2 separate regions of the Homo sapiens genome follow, and region 1 is linked to region 2. Evidence: fine-mapped expression QTL. A gene starts in region 2. The other region holds a variant in brackets. All regions are shown on one strand. Distances are between the middles of the regions.

Evidence for each region.
Region 1: its variant is fine-mapped to the expression of WNT5A-AS1 in monocytes after R848 (Quach 2016, PIP 0.90).

The regions. Positions count from the first base shown.
Region 1 is chr3:55,615,145-55,618,053 of GRCh38, reverse strand. All of the region lies in intron 17 of ERC2 (ELKS/RAB6-interacting/CAST family member 2), which reads left to right. Among named protein-coding and RNA genes, the nearest start is that of ERC2-AS1, 9.0 kb to the right of the region's middle. RefSeq lists enhancers at 1,486-2,260, 2,261-2,909. The variant T/C (reference allele first, on the strand shown) is at 1,378.
Region 2 is chr3:55,486,662-55,489,521 of GRCh38, reverse strand. WNT5A-AS1 (WNT5A antisense RNA 1) reads right to left here and starts at 1,904. Exons shown (of 2, transcript NR_046656.1): 1 at 1,643-1,904; 2 at 1,214-1,532. It overlaps WNT5A (Wnt family member 5A), which reads left to right and starts at 2,216. Exons shown (of 5, transcript NM_003392.7): 1 at 2,216-2,542. The coding sequence starts at 2,537. RefSeq lists enhancers at 1-81, 82-592.

The sequences.
Region 1 (2,909 bases), 130 kb before region 2:
CCATTTCTCCCACCACCGAGATTTGTATAGTTTCTCTCCTGTCAGTATAATGCTCTATCTAAAATTTTAGAGGTTTCAGAATGGGTTGCCTATCCCAGTTTCCTTGTGAAAACAATTTTCTTTATTGTAAGTAAAGATTTCTAGGCCTTGGTCAATAAAAGAGAAATGGCCAGTGCTAGAAAGAGTCAAGTGGCCCCACTTCCCTTGCTCCAGATCTTAAAAACACCTAAAATGAAGCTCAATTAACTGGTTAATTTTTGCTGGTCATACGTTTTGAATGTGGAACTTCTTGGTCATTTGAGGGGTCTGACATTCTGGGCCCTTTTATCCTTTTATTGGTGAATTCACTGAAGTGTAGGCAGACAGAAAATGTTCAAGTGGCAGGCAGATAAACTTGTTAAATCCCTGGAAGTCTTTCCTTCTTTGCTCTGGGAGTTTATCATCTTGGCAGAGTTAAAAGGCAATTAGGCCTGCAGGTCTTTCCTGGCTTGTTTATTGGTGGTTTACACATGGGTGTTGAAGAGACAGGGCCATATTAAACATTCTGATCCTGCTGGCCGGAGGGGAATGAGACCTCAGCCCAACTTGGTAAGTCTCCTTGAGAGACAGCCTTGCCAAAACGCTGGAGGAAAATTGTTTAAATATAGTACCTGTGCCCCACGATGCTCATTGTTGGTGGAAAATTGCAGTCGGCTTGCTTCATGCTGTGTTCCATTTCCTGGGAAATGGTTTTATGGAAGGACATTTGATGAAAAAGTTCATTCCTTCTGTAATTGTTAGCTGCCCCTGTGGTGTGAGTTAAGGTAGAGGCGCACTGGAAATATTTCTTGCCCCAAATCTCTAGGGCAAGCCCCTTGCATGAGAAGGGAAGGCTATCAGTTTGAAACTGGGTGAGGGACAGATTTCCATTAAGTCCTCTGGTCCCTCTGAGTTCTCAGAGTCTCCCCAGCCAGGCTGATCTTGGGCAAAATTTGTAAAGGAGGTGGGTCTTGGGTTTTTGCAATCACTTCTTCCTTTTCTCACACCCTGCCTTCCATCGGCAAAGCCTGCAGGCTGCCTCCCTGGGATGAAGATACAGGGTTGGAGTAACGCCTAACTCCTTCACACCTATGTGTTAGTGAAGTGAAATGGCTCATCACTTCACCTCCTCCCCTGTTTTTCACAGTCAGCTTGGGCACTCATCTTAATGGAACAAGTGAGAATTGCTAGGGTTCAATTTGCTGGGCTCGGGGGTCAGGCACTCCTGGGTTCCACTTCTGGCTCTGTGTCTAACTGTGTGCCTTGAATTTCCTCTCTAATCTCAAGTTTTTTCTATTTGTAAAATAGGGACAAAGCTAGTCCCTACCATGCTAGTTTGTTGAGAGACTAAATAATGCA[T/C]GGAAAGTGCTTAACATAGTGCCTGGCACTTAAAAAAAAAAAAAAGCACAATAACTGGTAGCTTTTACGATTAAAATGTGCTTTATTTGTCTAACACATATATGTAAAATATATATTATGTATATGTGTATATCTAACACACATATATGTAGTGTATATATATATATGTGTGTATATTTACACAGTCCAGTGACAATTATATTTTTTGACAAGATGTAGCTATTTTTGTTTTACCAGTCTAGGGTGTTACTGAAATATAAAAACGTATCTGTATAAAATGAGAAAATCCTTGCTCAGGTCCAGAATACTTGGAATTTAAGGACTTTCCATTTCCACAACTGGCCATTGTACTCAGCGGCCAATGGAACTCCTTTCCTAAGTGGCTGCTACTTATCCAAATCTTGGTTCCTCAGGAGTTAGGCACCCTGCCTTTATTTTCTCAACTAAAGAAAACACAACAGATAACTGCAGCTTTTATTCTCAATCTGACCTTTCATGTTGTGAAACTCTTTTGCCATAGTGTCTTGCCAGCGTCTGCACAAGGACTTCCTCTAGCTGAGTAATGTGGTTCTGATTAAGGACATCCTATAAGACCCAGGAGGATGGCCTGGGAAGGAAACCAGCCTGAGACACTAGAGTGAATTTCCATCCCTCAGTCAGATATATGATATTAAAGACCAGAAGGTATATGGAGTTTGTCGTTGGAAGACTCAGAAACAAAATTAAAGCAAATGGCTGACAAATTGGCTGTCTTTTATGCAAAGTTGACAAGTAAGCTGCCTCTTACCCGAAAGAGGATATGCAGAGCCCTCCGGCCAAATGGCTCGGCAGGCAGTCAGCAGGTCTTTTGAAGTTCCTGCTCGCATGCCACTTTTAACAACAAGGCCTCTGCTGAATTGCTTCCTCGTAAAGACATGGAAACTTAATTTTCACCGAAAATATCATAGTTCCAACAATGATCATTCATTCCTCTCCTTAGTGCATGTAATATTGGGTAAAATACCTGTGTTATGTACAAATGAGGTATTTTTTTTCTCCTTACAGTTTTATGAATTAGGCTATAAATATTAAACCTTACTTTATTTCGCGGATGCTAAGACCTTTCCCTGGGGCCCACTAGGCACTGGCTCACTCCTGCCATAGTCAGGAGGTGAGGTGATTGTGACCAACAATGGAAGATCCCATTTGCTCTCCCTGGATTCATGGAGGCTCTATCCACAGGAGGAAGGACAAGAGGGCTGTGCAGTGGGCAATGGCGTTTGGAGAGCTTGGAGTTTCTCTATCAAATATCTAAGAATCTACTAATAGTTGTAATTCTAATATGATTTTCTTGTTAATCTCTGTCAAGCCATGAAATCTGATATGTTAACCATGACTAAGCCATGAAATTTGTCAACTTTGTCTGTGATTTACACAGGCTCTGGGTATTTTATTTTTTAACTCTTAATACAAAGTGTAGAACAGTACTTCCCAGTATGCTTTTCCCAGCAGGCAGCTGGTATCCTATGACAACAAGTAAGAACAGAGTGTAC
Region 2 (2,860 bases):
AAATTAAGGAATGGGAAGGGGCTGTGGAGGGTGGAACGGCATCGCTGGAGCCTGGGCCTGCGCCCTCTGGGGTGTGGGGGTGGAGGTGGGGGAGGACTGGAGGAACAAAACAAAACAGCCACCACACCAAAACACCTAGGCCACGGATTTTTCGCCTTAAGGTCAAGTGCATGCCAATGGACGGAGAAAATTGAATAGTGTGTGTGTGTGTGTGTGTGTGTGTGTGTGCGCGCGTGTGTGTGTCTTCACCTTTGACAGCTGGAGAATGCAGACGGCGGAAAATAACTATTACGCTCCAGTGTGAGGCACTGTTTGTGGGGTGGGGCCCTCGGCGTGCTGGAGGTAGCGGACACAAATCCACCAACCCTGCCCCTCCGGAGTCCCCAAAACCACGGGCATCTGGAAGCGTCTAGAAATTCCGGTGCCCGGAACCCGGTTTTGCCAAACTTCGCAATCTCCTCACCTGAGGGCACCCGCCAAGATCTCCGTGGCAGGACCACGCATCGCGCCTCATGCTCTGGGCCGGAGCCAGATGAGCAATCATGCATCCCACTACCCAAGTCCCTACTACTCTGGGGACTTTGCAGGAGGTGAGCGCCTAACCCTATCCATCAGCCCCAGTGCTTAAGTATCCTCCCCCAGAGGTAAGAATGAGGAGGTCCCCCATGAGGTTCCATGTCAAGGCAGCAGTCTCCGTGGAGCCCCAGTGGGAGCGGTCTGGGATACGCGGGCGAGCCAAGGGGTCCAGGCGGGGAAGTTGGGGTTCAGCCTCCCGCCGGTCGGTGGCTCTGGAAGGAGCGCAGACAACCAGGCGGCAGGCAGGCAGCGGCTGCGGAGTGGACCTCTCTCTTTCAGCAGATGCCGCGGGGGATGGGGAACTTAGAGAAGGGGAGACAAGGAGAGTGTACCCCGCCTCCCGGCACCCCAGCCCGTAGTACGGCTTTAAAATCCTGCAGAGTTTGTCATAGGCCGGCCTCACCACGCATGCGCATAGCAAAGTTGAGTTTTTTCTTTCTTCCCCCCCCTTCCCTCTCTCTTTCCAGCCGCCCCTAGTTCTGAAACTTTAAAGAACTTTTTTCTTTCTTTCTTTCTTTCTTTTTTTTTTTTTCTTCCTTCTGAGAACACCAGGGGAAAGAGGAGTCTGGAGAGAGGGAGGGAGAGAGTAAGGCAGTTGGCCAGAAGGGCTGGGGGGTGGGAGGGGGGGACGCGTCCCCGCGGTCGGTCAGTCTGTTTGCGGGGCACAGGATCGCGTGGAAATCTGCTGCGAGCTCCACGGAGCCGCCTCCGCCGCCCAGAGCCGGGGTCCGTGCGGCAGCTGCCCAGCGAGCCCTTCCGCCGCCGCCGTTGTGCCCGGGACCGCCCGCCTCCCGCCGGCCCGCTCTCCCGCCCCTCGGACCCGGGCGCCAAACGAGGAGGTGGGCAGCTTCGCCGGCCATGGACCGCCGGAGCTGAGTCGCCGCCGCGGAGCTCCGAGCTCTCGCCCTTCCCCAGCCTCGCGCCCGCGGTGCACTCGCTGCTCTTCGCCCTTCGCCCTGGAAAAACGGGGAAAAGAGAGATCAACCCGAAGAGAGAAAGAACGGGATACGTGGTGGGGGGGGGGAGCCCGCGTCTCCCCTGGGTTAGTCGCACCCCTCCAGCTCACCGCACAGCAATAAGTTCCGGGGCGACTTTCACCTATTTTGCTCCCCGTTTTTGCCGAACCCTAAAATGAAAGGACACAATTTGGGGCTGACTCTTGCAGCTCAGATGGCGACTTGTGCGTTTTCAGCGGCATCTCCCGGAGAAAAAGCCATGCGCGCCTGATTGTTCTGTGGCCCCAAAGCTGCAGCGGGGGTGTGTGTGTTGGGGTGTGTGTCTGTGTGTGTACAGAGACGTCCACACTAACTCGCGGCTGCAGGATCAGCGTCTGGAAGCAGACGTTTCGGCTACAGACCCAGAGAGGAGGAGCTGGAGATCAGGAGGCGTGAGCCGCCAAGAGTTTGCAGAATCTGTGGTGTGAATGAACTGGGGGCACCTGGGCGCACAGATCGCCCCCCTTCCCCCGCCCCGGGCCACAGTTGAGTAGTGGTACATTTTTTTCACCCTCTTGTGAAGAATTTCTTTTTATTATTATTTGTCGTAAGGTCTTTTGCACAATCACGCCCACATTTGGGGTTGGAAAGCCCTAATTACCGCCGTCGCTGATGGACGTTGGAAACGGAGCGCCTCTCCGTGGAACAGTTGCCTGCGCGCCCTCGCCGGACCGGCGGCTCCCTAGTTGCGCCCCGACCAGGCCCTGCCCTTGCTGCCGGCTCGCGCGCGTCCGCGCCCCCTCCATTCCTGGGCGCATCCCAGCTCTGCCCCAACTCGGGAGTCCAGGCCCGGGCGCCAGTGCCCGCTTCAGCTCCGGTTCACTGCGCCCGCCGGACGCGCGCCGGAGGACTCCGCAGCCCTGCTCCTGACCGTCCCCCCAGGCTTAACCCGGTCGCTCCGCTCGGATTCCTCGGCTGCGCTCGCTCGGGTGGCGACTTCCTCCCCGCGCCCCCTCCCCCTCGCCATGAAGGTAGGTGTTCAGTGCGCTGCCACTTTTTTTCTTTACTTCCCCCCACCCCCTGTTGGAAGTTAACTGAGTTCCCTTCGCCTCTTCCTATCCCTCCATTTCCCCAACCGCCTGAAGAAGCTGGAACTCCAGCGTCGCTGGCAGGAACCCCTACCCCTTCGCCCTCCACGCCGGGCGCACTGCCTCAGTGTCCCAGGAGATCACTTCTGGTCGCACCACCCGTTCTGCAAACAATTTTGATTTTTGAGAAAAAGTGGGGAAGAGCGATAGTAGACAAACTGAGTGCGGTTCACTGACGACTTTCCTTTTGCTCTGAGAACA